Linked DNA regions of Homo sapiens: region 2 is linked to region 1. The links come from fine-mapping of genetic effects on gene expression. A gene starts in region 1. The other region holds a variant in brackets. All regions are shown on one strand. Distances are between the middles of the regions. Region 1 holds the start of FOXI2 (forkhead box I2). Region 2 has its middle 65 kb from the start of CLRN3.

Region 1 (4,377 bases):
CAAATCCCTCGAGAGCACAGGTTCTAGACGCCCAGGGCGGCTGGACTTAGAGGCAGAGCAGGGAGGTTCCGAAGGTCGCCTGGGTGAGGGGTGCACAGCAGAAGGGCCACCCACCCCAAAGCCCAAGAGCCGCTCAGCCCAGCTCCCTGCTGGCCGAGCCGCCCCCGGCTCTGCGCTTCCTCCCAGGGCACCAAGGCCTTCAACGCCAACACGTGGGGCTGTCACCAGGGGAAACCGGAGGCCTGAGCTCAGCACCTCTGGACCCGCACCCGGCTAGCCTCCAGCCTCCCTTCAAACTTCGGTCCCTTCCCGGCTGTAGAGGAGGTGACTGAGGCGGAAGCCGGCGGCCGCGGTCTGGTGGCCAGGGGCGAAGCCAGGGGAGGGGTTAAGGGTCTGGGGAGCGTGGGTGGCGACTGTCGGTGGCCGCCTCCCGAAAGAAAAGTCGCCCGCCAGGCCCCCGGGGAAGGTGCCAAGGCCGCCAGCCAGAGCGCTCATAGCAGAAGCGAAACCGGAGAAGCAGGTGGCGGCCTCGGGTGCGGATGGAGAGGGCGAGGCCTGCAGGTCCAGGCAAGCCGCGCTCGGGGGCTCCAGCGCTGGCGCCTCGGCCCCTCCCACGCTCCTGGCTCCCGAGCGCACGGCCGCGCTGGCTTCAGCTCTCCTCTTCCTCTTCCTTCGGAAGTTCCCGTTGTCAAACATCTTCTCGCAGTTGGGGTCCAGGGTCCAGTAATTGCCTTTACCTGCAGAAGAAGAAACAGCCCAGTTCAGAAGGTTCGAGCTTTGACGGGCCGTGGTGTGAGCCAGCGAGGAGGTCAGCTTCAGAAAGATCCCCTGCTGGCCCTTACAGAGGGTCTGAGTCCTCGCCCCCATTCCACCCTTGACGGGCACTCTGTACCCGATGGGCCTCCACAGCAGGACTGGGAAGAAAGTGACAATCCAGAAAGGAGGAGGAAGGGAGCCCTGGGAAAGGCCGAGCCCCGTTAAGGTGAAGGAAGGCCTGCGAGATGCTAATGGTGGGACTCCGCCAGCCGCTCTGCCAAGGACAGCGCAGACCACGCCAGGCCCCCAGGTAGGCTCCAGAGCTTTCCAAACGGGCATCCTATTTGTTTTGCCCATCCTTGGGGTAGGCGCTGTCTTCCCCATTTTACCAGGTAGGGCACTGAGGCCCAGGGAAGTTGAGTCACTCCCAAGGTCACCCAGCTTGCTGGCTCTCCCGCTTCTTCCTCCGAAGGAGCGCACAGAGATTGAGAGCCCCGGGACCGCCGCACTGTAAACGCGGGCCTGTGGTGGGCTCAGCCGCTGTCTGAGAACCTGTCCATGCCCAAGCACTTCTTCCCCTTCTCCCTCCTCCCCGGGTATCCCCAACCGCGCAGGGAGAAATTAGGTTGTCTAAGGTGCTCCCACCCCCGGAGTGCCCGCGGCCCGGCGGGAAGATGGGGAGTCCTGGACGGAGCGAGCCGGCGCGCCGCTGTTACCTGGGTCGTCCTCGTCGCGGGGCACCTTCTTGAAGCAGTCGTTGAGCGACAGGTTGTGGCGGATGGAGTTCTGCCAGCCCGCCTTGCTGCGCTTGTAGAAAGGGAAGTTACCAGCCACGTACTGGTAGATCTGGCTGAGCGTCAGCTTCCGCAGCGGCGCGCTCTGGATGGCCATGGCGATGAGCGCCGAGTAGGAGTAGGGCGGCCGCACCAGCCTCAGCAGCTCCTGCTGGCCGGAGAGGCTCAGCCAGGCGAGGTCGGCGCCCGCCAGGCCGCCCGGGGCGCCGAGGAGCGGGCCGGGAGCCCCGTAGCTCGGGGCCGCGTAGGGCGGCGCAGGCCCGGGACCCGAAGCGTAGGACTTGGGGCTGAGCGCTGGCGCGTTCACCCACAGGAGGGGGCCCCCGCCCACCGCGCCCAGATCCCCTGGCTCATAGCCCGGGGGGTGCGCGGTGGCCTGGGCCTGGCCGGGCGGGGCCGAGGAGGGGCCCAGGTCGTCGCAGTAGGTGGCCATGTCCAGCCGCGCCCGGGCCTGGGCCAGCGGTGCCGCACCGAAACTCACTGGCGACCCATCCAGCTTGGCCGCCAGCAGCGCCCGGGTGCGACCAGCCCGGCCCAGCCCTCCGCCCTTTAAACACCGTCGGGGCCAGAGCCCATGGAGAGTGACGGTGGCGAGCCCCTCCCCTGGCAGCCCTGGAGGAGCGAAATCCTTGTCCTCGCCCTGGTGTCAGTTTTCCGCCCCGCCCAGGCCTGACACGTCCTGGACCGGACGCCCCTCTGATTCCCCCTTCCTCCTTTGTGCGATCCGTCCCGAGTCCACAGTCGCTCGCGGTCTTGGTTGCAGGGACCCTAAGTCCGTAGCCTCGTCTGGCTTCACGGGCCCCGCAGCCCCGACTGCCCTGGACCGTACCACGACTCCTCAAGGCCCCCAGGGCTGTGGCTTGGGAGCCCCGTCCAATGCGCGGCCCCTTTGCTCGGCTCGGGACATCTCGCCCCAAAGAAACTCGCCTCGCCGGGGCCCCTGGGTTACCCGGGACTCGGGGCTAGGGATAGAGGGCGACTACACTGCGCAAGAGATCGCAATGAAGTCCGTAGATCTCCAGGCTGGAGCCGCAGAGCGAGGTGGCGAGGTGGAGAACGCGGGGCTGGGCCTGGACAGCGGCCCTGGGGTCGTCTGGAGTCCTCGCTCCCTCAACCCGGAAGGCAGCGGACTGACATCTGCGCCGAAGTCGCGCGTACCCCACGGAGGGTCGGGACCCTGGAAATTTCGAACGCCCCAGCAGTTCAGGGCAGTCATCGCTTTTCCCAAGCCGGGGAGTCCGGGGCCCCGCCAGGTTTCTCCGCGCTGTGACCTCGGGCGCGCAGAGCGGAGAGCGCCAAGCTCTCTGCTGGGTGTCGGAGGACGCGCCGAAAACAGGGACGTCTCTGCAGTGCGTCCGACACCAGCTCTCCAGTCCTGCTGCCGCCCGGGGTTGCTGCAGCCCGGGTTATCCCGGCCCCCCAAGCTGCCCGGCTTTCGGCCTCCCCTGCTCCCCGCGCTGTGGGGTGGCGGAGGATGGACCCAGGCTGACGCTGGGCTGGGTACCTGGAAAGAGGGCCCGCCTCCCGGACTCCGAGTCGGGCACCTGTGCGAAAGAGGCGAAAATTCAGGCCTGGTGCTCAAGGCTCAGAGATGAGGAGACCTCCCCATCCCCCCAGATTCCTGCCGGCGGTGTTGGCGCTGACCTCCTGGAAGCTGGCCTCGCCCTGGGTATTCCCCAGCGTTACGCGGGCCTGTGGATCTAATTTTAATTCATTTGTAAAACAAAAGGACCAACCCTTCCCGACTTTTGGCGGTGGAGGAGGCTTGTAGGTTGAGGCCAGCGGTTCGATCGAGGAAAGAGTTTGGGTTTGGGGATTAAAGGGCCCATTTGAGTCAGCGACTTACTGGTGGTGCAGCCCCTCGGCCTCCCAGATCGTAGTTCCAAATTTTATGTAAAACAACTAATTTATGGAACAATTTAACAAATGGCAGAAAGAAGTGAGAGTCCCTCTGTTGGGACGTTGGCCTCTCGCCTTAGAAGTGAAGCCCCTTCAGAAGTGGTGGGTGAACCGAAGGCATTTCCCAAGCAGTCAAGAGAAAAGAAATACCCCAAAATGGTTCTTTGAGGTCGGCTTTTCGGCTGGACTCTGCCCCCTTTTCCTTCCCCCTTTCCCAAAGATTTCTGATTTTTGTCAAAGGAATGCTAGTTGTGGGGGTCCCAGGTGCCTTTTACGAAGCCGCCCTCCCCTTCCATCCCCGTCGTTGCAGGGGCGGTTGCGGGGTCAACGGGAAGTACTCGGGGTGGGACACGCCTCTTCTTGCTGAGTCTCAGGTGAACACAGTCTATTGCTTCCACCCAAAAGAGCAGCCAGTGCCACCTGCCACTCAGCTTAGCGATTTCCAGTGCCCCCCTCAGGGGAAACCATGCTGCTGTCCGTAGGTGTGACCAGCTTTTTGGTGACTACCTCTTGAAGAAAGTGTCTTTCCCTCAGCACATGTGTAGCAAACAGGACTTGGATCCTCTCCTTATGGTGCAAACCCATATCACCGCCTATAGACACCCACTTTCCTCCCATAACACCCTTCCGGAGCTTGCCAGAGGGTCTGGGATGACTCCACACCTTCAGGAATTTTGAAACGGCTGCTGATTAGGACTCAGTTTTTGAGTCCGTGCTTGATGAGGATGTACAGAGGCTGCACAGCTCTGCCTTGACCCAAATCATCCCAGAGAGAGTGCGAAGGTGGGAGCTGCAGCCGGACCCGCAGGGCCACCGGCATGGCAGGTTCTGCAAGAGCCCGCCTGGCCGTCCCTGCTTTCTAGCGGCTGACGTGAAGTACTGGACAAAAGCAGCTGCTCCTTGTCAAGGATTTCCATTGTCCAAGGCT
Region 2 (4,377 bases), 91 kb before region 1:
AAGACAAAGATACTGATGGGGAAGAGCCGGCCATCTGGGCTCCTGGCATCCTGAGCTCATTGAAAGTCACTGAAAAGACATCAGTGGAAGAAGCTGGAGTCAGAGCCAGGCTTGGCTCTCCCAGGCCTGTGGTTCAAGCTCTTACTAATGTAAAAGTTGATCACACAAATTGGGTCATTCTTGCCATACCCAACTAAAACAGAGTCCAGAGGCCAGGAGGATAAAGCCCTCAGGGCACATGACATTGCTCCGAGGATTGAATTCTCTGCCAGCCTGGCTGCTGAAACTGCTTGCTGCCACCTGAAACCAGTTTTATCTAACAGCTACTGAAACAACCTACTGCAACTTTAAGACTAGTTGTATCCACCACCATCACTCACCAATCGGAGCTTGCCAGCTCCCCAAAACTTTACTAGTGCTAATCTAATGAACTTTCTTGCAGAACAATATATAAAATTTCTCTAAATTCTTTAACCTTCTTTTTGTTCTTTGGACATAACAAAGACCACCTGGTCTGTATGCCCTGAATTGCAATTCTTGCCTCCTGAAGAAAAGTTTTTAAATTTAGAGATTCTGTCTCTATCTTTTATTCAACACTGAGGAATATAGGGAGAGCCCAGTCCCTGAAGCCGGTGTGTTCTGGTCTCGCTGAAGGGGGATGGTGGGTAAATGCATTTTAAAAGGCCTTGACCAAGAGTGATGTGAGGTCCTGGCCCAGCATTCTTTCCTGGGCCTTTGTAATTCTACTTTCAGAGGATGTCTGCAAAGACCCTTACCATCACCTCCCATGAGAGGCTCCTGAGAGCAGCCCTTGGAGGAGACACAATGGGGATTTCCATTATTCCCATTTTACAGACAAGAAAACAGAGGCATTAGGAGGCCACCTAACTCAGCTCAAAGTTGACCTCCTCAAGGAAGTCCAGCTTGACCATTCTTAATTAGAATAGGTGTCCTCATTGCAAGCGGTTTCGAAAGCTGGGTCACTGTAGAATTCACGGCAGAGGCAGTTCACTGGATGAGGCTGCTTTCTGTCAGTGCTGTGAGATGAGCCCTCATGTTGCTGTGCACGGCTGTGCCCCCGCACCTAGCTCAGGTGGGCTGATAGAATTAAGTGTGGCAGGGCGCAGTAGTTCACACCTGTAATCCCAGTGTTTTGAGAGGCCGAGGCAGGCAGATCACCTGAGGTCAGGAGTTCGAGAGCAGCCTAGCCAACATGGTGAAACCCATCTCTACTAAAAATATGAAAATTAACCAGGTATGGTGGCCGGCGCCCGTAATCCCAGCTACTCGGGAGGCTGAGGCAGGAACCCAGGAGACGGAGATTGCAGTGAGCCGAGACTGAACCATTGCACTCCAGCGTGGGTAACAAGAGCGAAACTCCGTCTCAAAAAAATAAAGAACAAAAGAAAGACAAATGAAAGAAAGAGAAAGAAAGAAAGGCAGACAGAAAGAAAGAAGAGAAGACAAGAGAAGAGAAGAGAAAAGAAGAGAAAAGAAAAGAAATTAAGTGAATGAATGAATGATCCATCCCAGATAGGGTCAGACATCAGACTTCTGTGTGGAAGAGTGGAAACAAAGCAGCTGGGAGGCTGGCCTAGCTTGCTTTGAGTCCTGGCTCTACTACTTTTTAAGCGCTGTGGCTTGGACTATGTTACTTCTCTGAGCTTTGGTATCCACCTCTGTAAGGTGAGGGTTCCAACAGCAACCTCTGGGACATTTTGAGGATGAATAAGAGAGAGCAAGGACGCAGTGACCGGGCTGCTTCCCACACTCCAGCAGGGGAGCCCCCACACTGGGCCCTACTCCCTCTGGATTCCTGGGTGCTGTTCTTTCAGGACTTTTCTCTCAAACACCTGGGCACACAAATCAAGTCAAGGTATGTGTGGGTGAGTAAAGCAGGCCTTGGGTCTGTCCAGCAGGTGTGAGGATTTTTTCAGCTGCCACCCAGGCATGACAAGCCAAGGAGGGACTGTAGCCAGCCCTGTCTGGCCCCTGCATCCCAGAGCCTATGCATACATCCTCACTTTGGACAGGCTCCACGGCTGAACCTGGCCAAGCTCTTCAAGAAAGGTGGCCACCAGTGGGGGGCTCAAGCACTTCCTCTAGACCCACAGAGCCTTGGACCTCTCTGACTGGCACCTAGGATGTCAGTCTGTTGTACTGACAAACTCTGGGCAGAGTTTTCAGTGGCCGGCAACAATTGTGATAAAGGCCTGCCACATGCAGACACCCGTCTCTCAGGATAGGGCCTCGGGTCTGGGAGCACCACTCCTTCCATCCCTCCTGAATCTGCAGAAAACTCCCTCCTTCCTCCATGGGGCCAGCAAGCAACAGTCTCCCCTGGTTCCCTCTACCCTCAGCCTCTCTGGGTCTCAGTTTCCTCATCTCAGGCTAGTACTCTCTGGGCCAATGAAACATCCTCTTCCAGGTCACTTGAGGACTTT[T/C]GTTCCTGGACTGTGCCTTAAAGGGTCCCTGAGAACACTCAAAATAGTAACAAGGCCAAGGTTTCCTGACACTTACTCTGAACCATGAGCACTAAAGGACACACCCATGCCTGGACACCCACAGCAACCAGAGGGGAGGCAGACCAGGGCTCACCCACCTCTGCTTGGATTGCCAGCCCTGGAAGGGCCTTAGGAATCTTGGGATCAGCACTGTCCCACGGGACTTCCAGCCTTGATGGAAATGTTCTGTTACCTGAACCAGCCAGTATGGGAGTTGCTGGTGACTCGTGGCTATTGAGCCCTTGAAAAGTGGCTAGTTGACCAAAGAATGGAATTTTCACTTTTACTTAATTTTAATTAATTCAAACACAATTTAAATAGCTACCTGTGGCTAGTGACTATCATATTGGACTCTGTAGGCCTTGGGGATCCTAGCTTTTGGTTGTACACCTGCAGAAACTGAGACACGGTGGGGGAAATAAATTCCTTAAGACCTCCCAGGAGTCAATAAGAATTGGGTTTCCTCTGTCTGGCAGCTGTGTTCTTCTCATGACATAGCAAATGGCTGACAAAAGGCAGATATCTGCCTTGCTGAGCCACAAAGACAGGTTCCAAATAAGGGAATGTCTTGGTTGTTTCGGGGGGGGCTTTTAGCTGTGGCTGGAGAACACAGACTCAAGGCCTCTGGACTTTTTGAGAAGCAGAGGCCAGTGGAAGGCTGAGGTCTGGTAGTGTGGAGCCCCCACTGCAGCCTGCTCATGAGGGCCAGGCCTCCCTCTGGGACCTGCAGCACTGTGACAAATACTTCTTTCCGGCTGACTTTGCTCAGACACACGAATGAATACTCAGCATGGGAATCGCCCTCTCTAACATGAAGTGAGAGCCTTGGAAAGCCCTGTAAGCAACATGGCTGCAGGCTCTTGTTCCTTCACATATGCACACAAGCAATGCTTCGAGACGGCACGGTGCTTCGCGGAGCACGCAGCCAGCAGGAGGCTAGGACAGCAGAGGCAAACCTATTTTCTCCAGGCAGTCTGGAAACCAGAGTTGCATGTTAAGTATTATGTGTAAATGAAATAGGAATCAGGGAGAGGAAAATACCAATTTGGGCTGAATTGGCAAAATGTATATAATTTACAGAATTATGCAAAAATGAAAGGCTTCCATTTCCCTTCCATCAAGGCACTTCCTGTGAGAAAAATCAAATCCCTTCACCCTGCTCTGCATGTGTGGTGTTATGTGCTGGGGAAACTGTGTGGGTTTTTCCGCAGAGCTCTGAGCAGTTTTTCCAAGGAAGTCCGTGAACCCTCTAAGGGCCAACCTGAGTGCCACAGAAGTAATGAGCCTCTATTGCCAGGAAGTCGCCTTCCTCCCTGGCTCTTCTCGGGGGCTCGCCCGGCTGGCAGCCCTCTCAGCCTGCTCCCTCCCAGAAGGCCTAACAGTAAAGCACTCTCTTCTGGGCTGGCTCCCGCTAAGGTGCTAGATCAGGATGGAGGAAGATTTGTTTTACCTAGCTTTGAATCAAAACTCCTGCTCACACTCTCCAAAATGGAGAAAATACAAACTTGTGAAAGCCAGAGGCCTCCCTAAGGCCAACAATGAGCACCGTGTGATCACTGCTTCGTTTGTCGTGATGGCACAAACACCAAACTCTGCCAAAATAGCTAAAGAGGTTTATTCTGAGCCATGTGAATGACCATGGCCCAGGAAAACAGAGTCTCAAGAGGCCCTGAGAAGGTGCTCCCGAAGCCGTCAGGTTCTACTTTGGTTTTATACATTTCAGGGAGACAGCAATTGTGGGTAAAATCAATACATGGAAGGTATACATTGGTTTGCCCAGAAAAGATGGGACATCTCAAAATGGGGACTTAAAGGTCATAGGTGGGTTTAGGGATTCTTTATTTTATTTTAAAATATTTATTGTTTATTATGT

What was found. PIP is the estimated chance that this variant, and not a neighbour inherited with it, causes the effect. A credible set is the group of variants that fine-mapping cannot tell apart.
Region 2: its variant is the best candidate, but not a certain one, in a credible set for the expression of FOXI2 in subcutaneous fat (GTEx, PIP 0.60).

What each region holds. Positions count from the first base shown.
Region 1 is chr10:127,734,880-127,739,256 of GRCh38, reverse strand. It overlaps FOXI2 (forkhead box I2), which reads right to left and starts at 2,072. Exons shown (of 2, transcript NM_207426.3): 1 at 1,473-2,072; 2 at 1-737. The coding sequence starts at 1,983. The coding sequence ends at 292.
Region 2 is chr10:127,825,399-127,829,775 of GRCh38, reverse strand. No RefSeq gene overlaps it. Among named protein-coding and RNA genes, the nearest start is that of CLRN3, 65 kb to the left of the region's middle. The variant T/C (reference allele first, on the strand shown) is at 2,445.